Homo sapiens: one gene and its partners. The protein of the gene in region 1 interacts with the protein of each later gene in a pairwise test. Each region holds a gene or a part of one and is shown on either strand. Other genes may lie near its edges.

Evidence for each region. The genes of interacting proteins can lie anywhere in the genome.
Region 2: the proteins of FUNDC1 (region 1) and MTERF3 interact in binary tests that used the Homo sapiens proteins (3 or more experiments, as listed by UniProt).
Region 3: the proteins of FUNDC1 (region 1) and YES1 interact in binary tests that used the Homo sapiens proteins (3 or more experiments, as listed by UniProt).

The regions. Positions count from the first base shown.
Region 1 is NC_000023.11:44,523,115-44,525,873, forward strand, and holds the end of FUNDC1 (FUN14 domain-containing protein 1), read right to left. Parts: intron 1,162-2,759; coding exon 1,084-1,161; 3' UTR 525-1,083; downstream 1-524. UniProt on the Homo sapiens protein: Integral mitochondrial outer-membrane protein that mediates the formation of mitochondria-associated endoplasmic reticulum membranes (MAMs).
Region 2 is NC_000008.11:96,258,606-96,265,468, forward strand, and holds the start of MTERF3 (transcription termination factor 3, mitochondrial isoform 1 precursor), read right to left. Parts: upstream 3,006-6,863; 5' UTR 2,896-3,005; intron 96-2,895; 5' UTR 86-95; coding exon 1-85. Other genes in the region: PTDSS1 (phosphatidylserine synthase 1), read left to right, coding at 3,436-3,614.
Region 3 is NC_000018.10:739,238-746,275, forward strand, and holds part of YES1 (tyrosine-protein kinase Yes), read right to left. Parts: intron 6,815-7,038; coding exon 6,711-6,814; intron 6,621-6,710; coding exon 6,471-6,620; intron 4,179-6,470; coding exon 4,023-4,178; intron 3,861-4,022; coding exon 3,681-3,860; intron 575-3,680; coding exon 498-574; intron 1-497. UniProt on the Homo sapiens protein: Non-receptor protein tyrosine kinase that is involved in the regulation of cell growth and survival, apoptosis, cell-cell adhesion, cytoskeleton remodeling, and differentiation.

The DNA of each region.
Region 1 (2,759 bases):
AGACTGCCAGGATAAACAAACAAACAAGAAAATTAGAAGCTTACATATAAGAAGATATTTTTTAAACTACAGACATCAAAAAAGAAAAAAGAGCTTTAGACATGTTATAGTATTTCCTCAGAAGAGCCTTTTTTGAAATGTACAGTTATGGCTGGGCATGGTGGTTCATGCCTGTAATCCCAGCACTTTGGGTGGCCAAGGCGGGCGGATCACCTGAGGTCAAGGGTTCGAGACCAGCCTGGCCAACATGGCGAAACCTCGTCTCTACTAAAAATACAAAAATTAGCCAAGTGTGGTGGTACGTGCCTGTACTCCCAGCTACTCAGGAGGCTGAGGCACAAGAATCGCTTGAACCTGGGAGGCGGAGGATGCAGTGAGCCAAGATCATGCCACTGCACTCCAAGCCTGGGTGACAGAGCAAGACTCTGTCTCAAAAAAAAAAAAAAAACAAAAAAGAAATGTACAATTATTACACTTATAACAAAGTAATAACTCCAGGAAAAAAAACAACATAAAAATTGGTATCATATTACATCAGCAGAGTCTGTTTAATATCTTTAATAATTATATCATTTCTAAAGCTTTCCACAAAAGGGTATTACAGTTTTTTAACTTATTGCAAACATATCTTAAAAAAAAAAAGTCAGCCTTAATACTGAAACTATAACATGAATTTTAAATTATGGACACATACCATAAAACACAATGAAGAACATTTTATTTAAATAAAAAGAGAATATTTCGCTAAGCAATAAACCCAACATATTTCTTTTCTCTCCATATCTACATCCAATGGTGATATTTTATAGGCTAGTTTCTAAACAGATGCAAATTTTTACAAAGCGATGAAAGCCACGTTTTGCTCAGGAATACTACGGTTCACATACCATATAGGTTGTTTTACAGCAGATACTAGTTTGCCAAGCTTCAGATGGCAAAATGCTAAGTTGTGAATTGAGTATTGTCCAGCTAGTTGTTTCTCCTTGCCCTAGAGACTCTGGCAGTATGACTTTTGAGAGACTGCCTTATTGCTGCCACTTCTCTTCTCATAGTTGAATCCGTTATGGGAGAATATTCATGTCCTTAAGATGCAAGTCCGAGCAAAAAGCCTCCCACAAATCCACTGGATATCACAATGTTCTGCTTGATAAATTCTGTTGCCTGAAACAAAGTTTAAACAAAAATACTCTTAATTATGCTACAACAGGGATGAACCTTGAAAACATTATGCAAAGTGAAATAAGGTAGACAAAAAAGAACAGATATTACATGATTCTGCTCGTATGAGTAGTCAGAAAGCAGAATACAGATCATTAAGAGCTGGGGAGAGAGGGAAACTGAAAATTAATGTTTAATGGGCACAGAGTTTGGGATGATGAAAAAGTTCTGGAAATAGTGGTAATGATTGCAGAAAAATGTGAATATGCTTAATGCCACTGAACTGTATGCTTAAAAATGGTTAAACTGGTAAAATTTTTGTATAACTATTTTACCACAATAAAAAGATGCACAAAAAAAAATTCTTACTGAATCCAGAGCCAAGTAGCAGTTTCAGCTATTTTCCTCAATTCAATAAATATTCAGCAAAAATTCCTGTGCACCTACTACTGCAGGTATCAAATAGCATGCAAGATCCCAGAAATGTCCCTGACTAATTGAAGGAGACTAGAGAACACAGTCATGCCCAGTAAGCTCCTTGGCTATTGAGATAATAAGTATATGGGCAGCAATGATCTCACAAGTAAAAAGAAATCTACCTGTAAGGTAGAGATGAATGGCCCATCATCAAGTTATTAACACAGATTATTTAATAAATTGTCACAGCAGGCACAATGGTATTTATTAATAGTCCATTTAGCCAACAGAAAAAAAAATGTACAGGATCAAAACCAAAACAAATTACTTTGGTAAAATGTTTAACCAGAATAAAATCATGAGGAAGCCATCAGACAAAGCCAGACTGTGGGATATTCTGCCTAGAGGTGTCAAAAATGTCAGTGCCATGAAAGATGGGGGAATAAAATTAACAGATGAAAGGACTGTTTAAGACTAAATGAGACTTCATAGACATGATAACCGAAAACAATATATAATTTTTTTTGGGGGGGTGAGTGGGAACAGGGTCTCATTCTGTCAGCCAGGCTGGAGTGCAGTGGCACAATCACGTCTCACAGCCTCAAGCAATCCTCCCACCTCAGCCTCCCAAGTAGCTGAGACTATAGGTGCATGCCACCGTTCTAATTTTTGTATTTTCTGTAGAGACAAGGTCTCTCTCTCTTACCCAGGCTGATCTCAAACTCCTAGGCTCAAGAGATCCTCCTGCCTCAGCCTCCCAAAGTGCTGGGATTACAGGAGTGAACTACTGTACCTGGCATATAATTCTTAATTGGGAAAAAAAAAGCCACACAAGATATTTTGTAGAAAAATATTAATATGAACTGCATATTAGAAAATACTGGCTGGGTGTGGTGGCTCAAACCTGTAATGCCCAGCACATTGGGAGGCTGAGGCAGGCAGGCTGCTTGAGCCCAGGAGTTTGAGACCAGCCTGGCAACATGGCAAAACCTCATCTCTACAAAAATATAAAAATTAGCTGGGCATGCACCTGTAGTCCCAGCTACTTGAGAGGCTGAGGTGGGAGGATCACTTGAGCCCAGGTGCTCGAGGCTGCAGTGAGCTGTGATCACACCATTGCACTCCAGCCTGGGTGACAGAGCAAGACCCTGTCTAAAAAAAATTAACAAAGAAAGGAAATACTA
Region 2 (6,863 bases), on another chromosome or scaffold:
GTTTTGTGAGTTGTGCAGCATTAATGAGGCTCCTCAACTTAACTGAGTTAAACCATCTGGGTATCTGTTGGGCTGACAAAGCCATTTTTCTTAGTCTACAAAGGAAAGATATAACCGTCAAAAGAAGAGAAATTTAATTTACTTAAATGTTTAAAACGGTATTCAAACAACAAAAAGATAAACTGGAAATTATTTTTTTCTAATTGAAAGGTGTTTAAATATATATTTAGTCTAAAATAGTGAGATGTTTCTTATGTACAGGAAAAGCCAACAACAAGGCAATCTCAGTTACAAACCAACAGACAGGAACTTCTGAGTGGAAAAATAAAGATATACTTTACAATTTAAAAACAAAATGCAATGACACTGGTGTAAGAAAAATGCTTAAAACAAAAATCTGCAAATGTTCAAGTGACAGCAGACCTCACTAATCTGTTAATTTAATCATTTAAAGAGAATAAGCTGATGCAAATAAGTGTTCTTGAAATTTGGTGTGAAGGGTGTTTCCGCAGCACATTGCTGATCAAAGTAACACTGAATTATTCAAATGCATTTTATGTATATAAATTTGTCCCAAAATGAAAAAACAGAAATCTACTGTGTCCTAAACAAATCATCAAAATATTATCATTGATATACAGAACAGTGAAAGCAGTTTCTTGCTTCATTCTCAGGGCTGAACACTGTTGATTACTTCACAGATAAAGCTGTTCTTCCAAAGGGAATTGAACAAAACCAGTTTTGTCAAGTTTTGTTTCACTGTAGGAAAGGAGAAAAAAGCCTTCAAAAAGAAAAGGTCAAAACTAGTAACAAAACCAAGTGACAGAAATAAATAAGCAACCAGCAATTAATACCTGTATATTTTGACTGAAAAAGTAGTTTTCAAAAATATTTTTATCAGGAAAGGCTAGTGCTATGTTAAACTCCAGGAATATGAAGGGATTTTATATTTAGCCAGCTAATTAGAAAGGTAAATTTGATGCATATAATCTTACGTTAAATAACATTATCCATATAAAACACAGGATGGAGTCAGGATATAAGAAATGCTCAATAAATGTTAGCCATTATTATTGGTTACACAACCAAATACAAAAATTCTGCTGAATTAATTGCTGCCTACAACTTTATACTTTGTTTTTCTGCATACTGGAATTCAGCTTGTTTTATGCTCTAAATTAGACCAAATACTTGAGGGTCTAATCTTTTCTTGGAGATCTGTAGTTTTGGGAAGTTTGCTGAAAGAGATTTTACAAAAGTGAAAGTTTCCTTTCATTCTGCAATTATTTATTATTATTATTATTATTATTTTTTTTGAGACGGAGTTTCGCCCTTGTTGCCCAGGCTGGAGTACAACGGCACCATCTTGGCTCACTGCAACCTCTGCCTCCCAGGTTCAAGTGATTCTCCTGCCTCAGCCTCCCGAGTAGCTGGGATTACCCACGCCCGCTACTATGCCCGGCTAATTTTTTGTGTTTTTAGTAGAGACGGGGTTTCACCATCTTGGCCAGGCTGGCCTCGAACTCCTTACCTCAGGTGATCCACCCAGCTTCCCAAAGTGCTGGGATTACAGGCGTGAGCCACTGCGCTCGGCCCATTCTGCGATGATTTTAGAAAAGAAGTAAGTATTCACAATACCCTGCTGGGATAGGTGGTTTCTGTTAGATTTTGGTGGGAAATGGGACTCCAAATGTGCCAAGTTTTCCCTCAAACCTACAACATTCATTCTCTGCACGGTAGTCATAAGGGCACTAAATTGAAAGTCAGAAGACCTCGGTTGTGCTACCTTGACAAGGCTGTTTCTGGCAGCAGTCTAACAAAAGCAGCAGTCTAGCCCATGATGTGGGGGGTGGGGGTGGGGTCAATAACTATTCTTCAAATAATGCTTTTTTAAAAGGCTAGGGGTACAATAAGATGATTCTTAAGGCCCCTATCAGCTCTAACATTTTTTGACGTCTAAGCACTTCATCCTACTTCAAACTCCTGAAATCCCAAATTCATCCTGAAGCCTTTCCACACTCAATACCACTTAAACATCAGGAAGACTCACTTTCAAATTTCACCCCGTCATTAAAAGATCTTTGTGCATACAACTAATGTTTATCCTTGCATTTTTATTTACAAGTGCACTATCTTCTCCACATCCTTTCATTGCTGCCTACACATCTTAACAATTGATTAACTGTTCATGCACGAGAGCAGAGCTGGGTCTCATCCCTGGATCCATCCTTCCGGGGACTATTCTCCACTTTCCCAGAGCCTTGTACTGCTCTAATGTTTGCGGAATGGAAATAAATCAATGGCAAGTACAGTTAACTCACTTGCTTACACAGTATGCAAAAGCGGGTAGGGGATGTGCAGATGTGTATAAAAGCCCTGTAAGGTGGTAACCTGAAGTCTTCTAACAAGGTCCTTTCATCAGGAAAATTACAGAAAACCCTTAAAGAAACTGAAGTCTCTTAACAATTCATATATACTGTTCTCAATGAGTGCCTAGTGCTTCGCTAGAAAAAGGCACTGAAATAGAGTTCAAGATTTCTACCTACGAAATGCTATAAATGAAATCAGGAGAGAAAGGGAGGTTATGGGGGCAGCTTCCTAATAAAGGGTCTCTCAATACTTCCCAGGCCATTTTAGCCCACTTCAGTTCCCCAAACTTGCGCAGGAAGGCAGAGCCCCCTCCTGAGGCTTCTCACACTGCGCTAATTAGCCAGCATGGTTGAGTTTTCACTACATCAGCCAGGGAAAAACACAAAACAAAACCAATCACCCTCTACTGGGCCGCGAAAACCTAAAGGCCCTTGAGGCCCTGGGGCGCGGTCTGGACGCGGGTGCGCCGGAACCTGAACCCTCGCCAGGAGCGCGATCCTCGTGCTGGGGCAGCTCCTGCTTTACCTGTGGCGAGGCCTGCTTCCCGTAGCGGGTGACCCCGGGACCGACCAACTCGCTGGGCCGCACGTCCCGTCCCGCCGCGCCGCACGCCGGCTCCTCAGCCCGCCCTACACAGCGCAGCCGCGCTCCCGGGCCCACGTGGGCCGCGCCCGGAGTGGGCGAGACCATGTGCCGGGTTACGCGGGGAGACAGCGGGCTACGTGCTCTGAAAAGAGCCAGCCAGGGGCCCCGGCTACCCTTCTCCGGCTCGCTATTCCTCTGAAGTCCTGTGGACTTGGAGTCTGAAAATTCCTCGAGTGGTAGAGATGCCTCAGCTAGGATGACAGCGTGGGGACGGCCGGCGGCGTCCCCTGCCCCAGGCCGCGGTGGCGGCGCCGCGACCCCGCCCTCTCGCGCCTGTCCTTCCCTCTGCTCCCAGCCTTTGCTGGGCGCCAGACCCGGCTTTGCCGTCCGGCTATTAGCCTACTGTGGCTAGTCACCCCCGGGGTCCCGGCCTTCTCGGGCTGGGGCCGCCGCCACCGCGGCAGGACGGGGAGGCGGGCCATGGCGTCCTGCGTGGGGAGCCGGACCCTAAGCAAGGATGATGTGAACTACAAAATGCATTTCCGGATGATCAACGAGCAGCAAGTGGAGGACATCACCATTGACTTCTTCTACCGGCCGCATACCATCACCCTGCTCAGCTTCACCATCGTCAGCCTCATGTACTTCGCCTTTACCAGGTGGGGCGGCCCAGCCGAGCGGGGGGCGCGTCCAAGGGCTAGGGAAGAGGCGGGAGGGAGGGTGGCGGGGAGGGGGGCCCGGCATGGCTCTGGGTGAGGAAGTGGGCTGGCTGCTCCACGCACACGCACTGGCAGCCCGCCGCCCACGCGGCCCCTCCGCCCGCCCGGTGTCTCACAGTACGCTAGCCTGCTCCCCTACCCCTCAGTGCCCCTTCTCCATACAGCGCCTCCGGTTACACGGGGAACGCACGCGAGTCACCTAGCACGATCGCCCCCTCACCCACCGCACTCAGCATCGCTCCACACAACATCACGACGCGGGCCCCTCCTCTGCACTGCTCCAGCCTTCGTCCCTACCCAGCACACCGCATGAATCATGTCGTATGCACCACTTTCAGCACACACCGCTACACATACAAAGCACCCCAATCCACAGCGCCTGCAGGCACCATACACAGGCCCAGGACACAACCTAGATCCCTTCCTGTGGAACTCCGGTATTCGGCACTATCCGTAACGCACAAAAAATGCACATGTGTGCTGCATACACGGTCTTTCCTGTGCAGCACTTCCCGTATGCATTGCACACAAGTCATCCAGCATAACACTTCCCCCAGCCTCAAACACTACCATCTGTACCACGGCACAAACTGCCACTCTAAACACACACCTCACAGCGGACCTTTCCTTTCCAGCACAGCCCAATACCCATCATCTGTGTACATGGCTGCACAGACACCAGCCCGCCACACATCACGCGGTGCATACCCTGCTCACTCATTACCTAACATACGTGCTGAAATGTGATCTTGTCCAGCAATTTTAATGGTGCCTGGGGTATAGTAACTGCTGTGTGTTAAATGAAACACATAAACCTCACACAGCATAACACAACTCTCTTATTCCCTGGAAAACATACACACACATTCTAATATATACCGGTTCATAGGAGCTGCCCAGCCCAAATCTTGAACACACCTCATGTTAACTCTGGCACTGCGCCTGTGGCTCCTCATTCCTAACCTAGAGAACTAATTCATCCTTGGTTCATAAGGAGGTACACACCGTGGTTCCTACTTAGAATGATTTATACTTTCTGAATGAACCTCTTTAAAGAAAGGGAAGTCACACCTCTCTCACCATTATGGCTTAAAAGGCCAACTTAGAGTAGAGTAGTTTTTGAGCCACACTTTTGGTTTCAAAACTGGCTGTGTGTCCTTAATTAAGTTGCATAACCTTGCTCTGAGCCTCAGGGGCCACACTCGTAAAATGGGGATGAAATATCTACTTATATAGGGTTATGAAAATTAAATGAATGTGTGTGAATGCATTTAGCAGAGTCCCTGGAGCACAATGTACAATTCATGTCAGTTACTTCTCTCCCAGTATTTTTATCCAACAATCAAGGTTCTCTGTCAGGGTCAGCAGAACATGTGTAGGGATATATATATTGGGTAGTCACAAGGATTGAGAGAACTTCTAGTATTTGGGAGGGGGAGCAGTTAACGGATACTAAATGTATTGTGACATATGTGACAGCGCTGTACAACATAAAGGGAATTGTCTTCTACACAGTCGTTTGCATACACACACACAAGTGCCGGTGGTGCCTCCCTTAGGAATAACTGCAGTTTTTCAAATCCTCATAAAACTAATATCCTCCCACATCACACTTGTTCCTTACCTCTGGGATTCATTTGACTCTTGGTTCTTGTTATGTAAGTGTTTATCCATTTGAAAGAATCTACCTAAAGGTATAAAGCTTAAGTAACAATTGCTTACTCTTTAATGATTGAGGGATCTTGCCACTATTACTATAAAATCTGCTAAAGCTGTGCAGCAGGTGAAGACCAGACCTTTCCACAGTACCTGACCAGACATATTTCTAGCTTTGGAGAGAAATGAATCATGTCCCTAACTATGGTTACTTTCAAATACTTCATTATGTTGCCTGATTTTATCACTTAATAGCTGTGTGGCCACATAATTTTGCTAGGCCTCAGTTTCCTTATCTGTATGTAAAATGAAAATATCAATACATTAATCTGTCGGGATTATTTGTCATGAGGATTAAATTCATCTTTTTAGATAATCTGTTTAGCTCAGTGCATGGCAAGTATTAAGTGCTTAATAAACATTAGTGGTTATTACGATGTGATTTCATTGAATGCTACTGTCTTCTAATTTATATTTATTATTGAACGAGGATGTAGTATGCTCTGTAATTGAGAAGGATAAAAGCACTGGAAAAATGGACATTAGATAACATACATACCTGTTTGATGTTAACTTCAGTTTAACTTCATCTTAGGTGTGGGCTTGAAATAATGAAATTAGTGAGGGAGTTTCTCTGGAAATTAGAAAAATAATTATGGTATTTTGTTTTAAATAATGAGAAGCAAGAATGAGCCATTTGTTTCAGCCTTTCATTTTTAATATTATTCTAGGTCCTTTCAAAATAGGTTTCTCTTCCTCTTTTCTGATATAAAAAGTCACAATCTTCTGAAATTTCCTTTTACATCATATTCTGTCAAGGCAGTCAATAAATTGCAGCAGTGAAAGTATAAGAAATGAATACGAATTTTAACAGCTTGTCCAAAATAATAGAAGAACCATAATCTGAACTTCAGACTGTAGTCTCATCCAAAAATGTTAACAATTTTATTTCTTCCACTAATTTCATAAAGAGACAGAAATCACATAATGAAGAACTAATTAATAACAAGTTTCACTTTATATAAAATCATAAGCACCATTAATAGAATTCGTACTTACTAAATCTTACTCATTTTTTGTAATGATTTGTGACTTAAGTGGGGCATTACAATGATAGCTCTATATTCCTCCATAAAGACGGAAAGTAACGACTTCTTAAATGAAAATGTATCCTATGTTCTTTTGTAATGATTAACTCCAGTGCCTTATTATTTATTTTATAAGATTTTAGTTGGACAATTGTTCAGTGCAATTCTTTCAGTAAAACTTAAAAGATATGTCTTAAAGTTTGTTTTGCAAAGACTAGTTGTCTAAGAGAACGAGGAGATAGGATTCTTTTGGGATGTCATATAACCAGTATGTGAGAAACAGTACTTGGGTACTGTCACATGCTTCAGAGATCCAGCAAGAATTTAAAATTACAGAGGATTAGATACCTTGCACTGAAGTCTGAGACAAGTTTGGATTTGTCAAGTAGTTCTTTTGTTAGATGGCCCTTAGGTCAATTCCCTGTTAAACCATAGTATTTAAATA
Region 3 (7,038 bases), on another chromosome or scaffold:
ACCTCTCATCTTTTGATACTTCATTAATCTGTATCATTAAGAGCTCACATTGGATTATCTCTGACGTTCCTGCCAGTTCTAAAATTCCATTATTGGCCAGGTAATCCCAATACTTTGGGAGGCTGAGGTGGGAGGATCCTTTGAGCCAAGGACTTTGAGACTAGCCTAAGCAACACAGAGAGATCCCTGTGTCTACAAAAAAAATAATTTTTTAAATTAGCTGGGAATGGTGGCCTGTGCCTGCAGTCCTAGCTACCCAGGAGGCTGAGGCGAGAGGATTGCTAGAGCCCAAGAATTCAAGGCTCTTCAAGCACGGAGCTATCAGTGCACCACTGCATTCCACCCTGGGTGACAGAATGAGACGCTGTCTCTAAAAAATAAAAAATAAAAATAAAATCCCACCATTTCACTACACATACTATAATATTCTGGTAAGATTATTCCACATTTTAATTTACACTTTTAATTCAAATGGATACATGTATATATACAGATACCTGAGCAGCCATATCAACCAGCTGTGGAAGCTTCAAATACTTTCCATCTCCTTCCTTAAGGAAATCTAATAAGCTTCCTGTAACAGACAGCAAGATATTCATAAAAAATAAGCAAATCTTATATTAGGATTGAAATGAATACTCCTCCACCCCAAATCACAACACAAAACTTCTTAGCTTTTCATTTTTTTTAAATTTTGTGCAGTTTTGCAGTTTCCAAATAATTATCTAGGTCCTAGAAGAGGTCTCTAAGCTGAAATTTTGAAAACTTCTGATAACACATGCAAAAAAAGAAAATGCATTAACTTTACCTGACAAGAGGCATTTTTTCCTCGCTTTGATCAATATCCCAATTCTGATTCAAAAAGTAGTATTAAATACTTACATATTTTTAAGTAAATCTGAATCAAGAATTCAGACAACTAGGAATATCTTGGGTGTGGTTAAAACTAAATATAGGTAGCTAAATGAGTCGCTGTGGAACTACTGCTGTGACCAAGCTCTCTCTCTGAAAACTACAAAGTACTATGAATAACAGCAAAGAAAAAGGCTAGAAGTCTGATTACGGCTTCACTATTATTTGTTAAGGCTTATAATCAAGAGAAAACATCACACAAAACCAAATTAAGGCACATTTAAAACATAAAAGTGGTCTATTCTCTTCAGAAGTAACAATGCTATGGAAGACAGAGGAAGGTTGAGGAATGGCTCTAGATTAAAGGAGACTAAATAGAAATGACAACTAAATGGAATGCCTGACCATAAACTGGATCGGGGAAGTGTAGTTGGTGGACTGGTCCAGAGCTAGGGAGACCAAATTCCAGGTCAAAGAGAAAACATGAAAAAATCATGAAAACAAAGAGCAGAACAGTGGGTTTATGCTGGAGTGCATGGGACAATGAGTTTGGACAGATTATAAAGGGACAAGTGCTAAGTGAATACCAAAATGAGGAATTAAAGAGTTTTAAAAATAGAAAGGACTTTTGTTATCTTGTATTCTAAATCTCTCCCGCCTGGAAATAATTGTACCCAGTGGTCTGACAACACAGAATTTTACCATGTTCTCCCAATTAAATAATTCTTAAAATTAATATACAGAGCTAAATGGGCTATTAGCCTTACCTTCATTATATTTCTTATGTTCCAATATCTTTTTTAATTGTTAAAGTCTTTATTTATTTGAAACGGAGTCTCACTCAGTCACCCAGGCTGGAGTGCAGCGGTGTCATCTTGGCTCACTGCAACCTCTGCCTCCCTAGCTCAAGCCATTCTCGTGCCTCAGCCTCCCGAGCAGCTGGAACTACAGGCACAAGCCACCACGCCCAGCTGTTTTTTGTATTTTTAGCAGAGACGGGGTTTCGCTATGTTGGCCAGGCTGGGATCGAACTCCTGACCTCAAGTGATCTGCCTGCCTCGGCCTCCCAAAGCGCTGGGATTGGAGGCATGAACCACTGTGCCTGGCCTGCTTCCAATATCTTGATTTAAACATCTTCCCTGTCCTTTTCTCCTTTTTTTTTTTTTCTTTTTTGAGACAGTCTCATTTTTTCACCCCAGATGGGAGTGCAGTGGCACAATCACAGCTCACTATGGCCTTAACCTCCTGGGCTCAAGCAATCCTCATGCCTCAGCCTCCTGAGTAGGGAATACATGTGTGTGCAACCACGTCCTGCTAATTTTTTTAGTTTTTGTAGAGATGGGGTTTCACCATGTTGCTCAGGTCAGCCACCATGCCTGGCCCTCCCTTCCCCTCTGGTTCATCTAATATACTCTTTGAAAGGGCATATTTGGGCTGGGTGTGGTGGCTCACACCTGTAATCCCAGCACTTTGGGAGGCCAAGGCAGGCTGATTGCTTGATCCCAGGAGTTCCAAACTAGCCTGGGAAACAGGGTGAAATCCCATCTGTAGAAAAATACACAAATTATCTATGTGTGGTGGCATGCACCTGTAATCCCAGCTACTCAGGAGGCTGAGATGAGAGGATCGCTTGAGCCCAGGGAGGTCCAAGCTGCAGAGAAATGTGACTGCACTCCACCCTGGGGGATAGAGTGAGGCCCCACCTCACAAAAAAACAAAAACAACAAACAAACAAGCAAACAAACAAAAAAATGTCATATTTGGCAACTGTTTGCAGTAGACATTCCTTCCAAAGAGCGCCAGGTGCTTTGGGTCTTTAGGTGTGTTCTGGCTATCAATTAATAGGCTGTATAATTTCTTAACTTTTGGTTTCAGTCCCCTTTTGAGGGGAAAAATTTTCCTACAGCAAATATGTAACTTGTAGTTGTCCTTGTCACCACTAGATGGAACTACATCATTGACCAAGACACACCACTGGAGAGGGTGACATAATTAGTGACTACTGTATATTATTGGTTCAAGAGTAAAAATAATAATAAAGCAGATGAAATCAAACACATAAAAATCAGGCCTGTCAGCTTATCTGCTGACTTACTAGTTCCTCTAAGTACCATCTGCACAGGGAAAAAGAGGAAAGAGTATCAATCTTCTCTTTATCCTCCCCCTAACTAACCCTGTTACTGAAGATCCCATCTTGTGGTCTAGAGTTAAGGAAAATGAAGAAACTTCCATTGAAGGTAGTGGGGAGGCCAGGCACAGTGGCTCATGCTGGTAATACCAGCACTTTGGGAGGCCAAAAAGGGAGGACTGCCTGAGGCCAGGAGTTCAAGACCAGCCTGGGCAACATAGTTGAGACCCCAGTCTCTATTTAAAAAAAAAAAAAAAAAGAAAGCAGTGGGGAAAAAAGTTCCTAGAAGTCCTGAATATAGGAATTATGTTTATATTAAAATGAGAAAACTAATTCATTTTAACTTTACCTTATTTCTTTGCTTTAGTACTAAAAATGTAAGTATCTTTCTGATTTTATCATTTTAATTAAATGTGTACAAACACTTTCTATTTTTCACCTTTCTAGCTTTTCCATTTGTTTTAGTCAAACTTAATTTCAAAATTAATTCAGCCTGCCTACTTTTCCTTTTAAACGTCATACTATCCTCTGGAATAACTGGATAATCACTATTCCATTAAACAAAGTGTCAGGTTTCTTCTATCCAAATATGTCTACATAAAAATCTTAAATTAGAAAACAGTATAAGTCTATATGCATACAAATCAAGACTCTTAAAAACATTATCAACACAAATACCTAAGGAGATACTAATACATACCTTTTGACATAAATTCAGTGACAATGTAAATTGGTTCTTCAGAAACAACAGCATATAGTGGAACAAGTTTATCATGTCTTAATTTTTTCATTATCTGAGCTTCTTGAAGGAAAGCTTCTGGCATCATTGTACCTGGTTTTAGTGTTTTGATTGCTACTTTCGTGGTTCCATTCCATGTTCCTAAAGAAATAACACATTTTAGGAATTTATATTTTAAAGGATTTTAGACCAAACTTCAGTGAACAGCACTTCTCTTAAATATTGAAACATATTTTATCATAAATTGTTGCACTTTAATCCACAGCTAAACAATGACAGAAAACAAAAATTCAGGCTTCTTACCCATCCACACTTCGCCGAAACATCCTTGTCCTAGTTTAACCTCTAGTCGCAAAGATTCTCGAGGGATTTCCCAAGCATCTTTTGCTAGACCTTGAGTCTGAGGTTTCACAGTTGGACACACAGTTGTCAACTTGTGGCATAAACCATCAGCATGTTCTAGATAAATGAATAAACTATACTGTAATATCAATTACAAAAATTAAGGGGCATATAGTGTATCAATGTTTTAAGTTTAAACTGTAGAAAAACAAAAACAGAAGTCCTTTCGAGTTTTACTCTAAAAGCACAAAACAAAAAGGGAGTTGTCCATAAGCAGCAAAACATGAAATATACATAAGTGAAACATTTTGTAAAATTTATTTTTAAGGCCGGGCAAGGTGTCTCACGTCTGTAATCCCAGCACTTTGGGAGGTTGAGGCAGATGAATCACGAGGTCAGGAGTTCGAGACTAGCCTGGCCAATACAGTGAAACACTGTCTCTACTAAAAATACAAAAGTTAGCCGGGCATGGTGGTGCATGCCTGTAGTCTCAGCTACTAAGGAAGCTGAGGCAGATGGATCGCATGAACCCAGGAGGCAGAGGTTGCAGTGAGCCAAAATTGCGCCACTGCACTCTAGCCTGGGTGACACAGTGAGATTCTGACTCGAAAAAAAAAAAAATATATATATATATACATGTTATTACTTACTACTTAGTATGTATATACTAATATATAGTAAATATATTGTATTTACTACTTAGTATGTATATACTAATATATAGTAGATATGTTAGTATATTTACTAAATACTTAGTATAACTTAAAATATATATTTTTTTAAGTTATTATTTACTAAATACTTAGTATGTTCCACTATTGTGCTAAATTAGCACTTCACAAGTATCTCATATATAAATGAAGCTTTGAAAACATACGCAACTTTCCCCTAAGGCCCTGCAGTTAGTAAATGGTAGAGATGGGATTCAAATCTAGGTCTGTCTGCTTCCAAAGTTCTGCCTTTGTACACTGGGTTTTATTAATTCTCAAAGAGAATGTTATCATTAAATGTTATTATCTAATAGCCACTAATTTGTAAGAGGCATACCAAAAAATCAAGGAAAAAGTTCATTTAGGATCATTTAGGAGATTTTTTCTTTTTTTTTTTTTGAGATGGAGTCTCACTCTGTCGCCCAGGATGGAGTGCAGTGGTGTGGTCTCAGCTCACTGCAACTTCCACCTCCCAGGTTCAAGTGATTCTCCTGCCTCAGCCTCCCAAGTAGCTGAGCCTACAGGTGCATGCCACCACGCCTGGCTAAATTTTTTTATATTTTAATAGATAGGGTTTTGCCATGTTGCCCAGGCTGGTCTCAAACTCCTGACCTCAAGTGATCTGTCTGTTTCGGCCTCCCAAAGTGGTGGGATTACAGGAGTGAGCCACCACGCCTGGCCTTTTTTTTTTTTTTTTTTTTTTTTTTAAGAGATGAGGTCTTGCTATGTTGCCCAGGCTGTTCTTGAACTCCTGGCCTCAAGTGATCCTCCTGCATCAGTAGTTGGGATTAAAGGCACAATCCACATGCCTAACAGGAGACTGATTTTTTTAAATAAGGGAGACACAAAGTCAGGGAACCCTAGATTCATAACAGCTTGACTTATGAATTCTGCTTATACAATCTTTCTTATTATAAATGAGACATGTTCTCTCCTATTCTCACTAAAATAACCACATAAATTCACATTGTGACAAAGGCAATTACAAGTGATGCCACTGCTTGGTAACATGCTTGATCAATGTCAAGATTGCTGGCTGACTTGATAGACTCAGTTTGCAGCTAGCTGTCATTGAAGACATTACCATGGAAACATCCCCTCTCCTAGTATTAATCATGTAAAGACTTTCAGGTGCATTCATATGCCAAATTGGTAATGAAAAATTTTGAGACAGAAGATTCTAATATTAAATACCTTCAGAGGTCCTTGAAAGACAAAAATGTCTATAATTGCTATAGGTTAATTTTCTAGGATAAGAAAAATGCATCGTCAGACCAAATTTCACTGGATTTATACTTTAGGAAAGCTTATGCGATCCAGCCCATGCAGAGGAAGGTAATCCTTCTGACATAGCTTTTTCTGTTACCCAATGTTTAGTTTTACTTACTAAGTGCCCATAAATATTTGCTTTTAGGTTTATTTTCATAAGGTACATGTGGTGAAATGAACTCCAATGTAAATACTATGCCAGTAAGATATAAGGACCCAAATGATGAGAGTCTATTAGCACATTATCTGAGTAGCACAATGCAAGTACTAAGTATTACCTGTTCCTCCCTTTAGAATACAACAGACATTTATTGGGCATGTATTATGTGTAAATAAGTGTGTTAAATCTTAAGAGAAATGAGGATATGGATTTTGTCCTCATAAACTAGAATATGAAGAAATAATTTTTACCTTTGAAATATTCACATACCTGTGTAGTGTTTCACCAATTTCTGCAGAGTATCAAATTGTGCTCTGGTTGTGATATAGTATCCACCATTGTCAAGTTTCCTAATTTTGTAGTGTTTCACATTGTCACCCCTTATCTCATCCCAATCACGAATAGAAAGGGAATAAGCACCTGGGTGAAAAATAAATACTTTCACTATATCTTTCTCAAAATACTGCCCCAAGAAATTTTATACTTATACTAATATAACAATATTCATACCTTTAGTTGTTTCACTCTCTCTTACTAAGAAAATACCTCGTTGATTTCCAGGATTCAAAAGTAATCTTTCAGCATCTTTTCTCCCCATTTTGCCAAAATACCATCTGGAAAAAAATTAAGTGTTTTGAATTGAAAAGTATGAGGTTCAGAAAAATTATACAGAAGTGTCAGTAAGAATGGACTGGGATAGGTTTGGACGACAAAGAATAGCTAGAGAACATGGCTCAAAATACAGGAAAATGTAAGAGTTTTATTGATTAAATAGTAATATCACAAATATTACTGTTAGAATATACTCTTACAGTATTTCTATATATTAACTACTCAA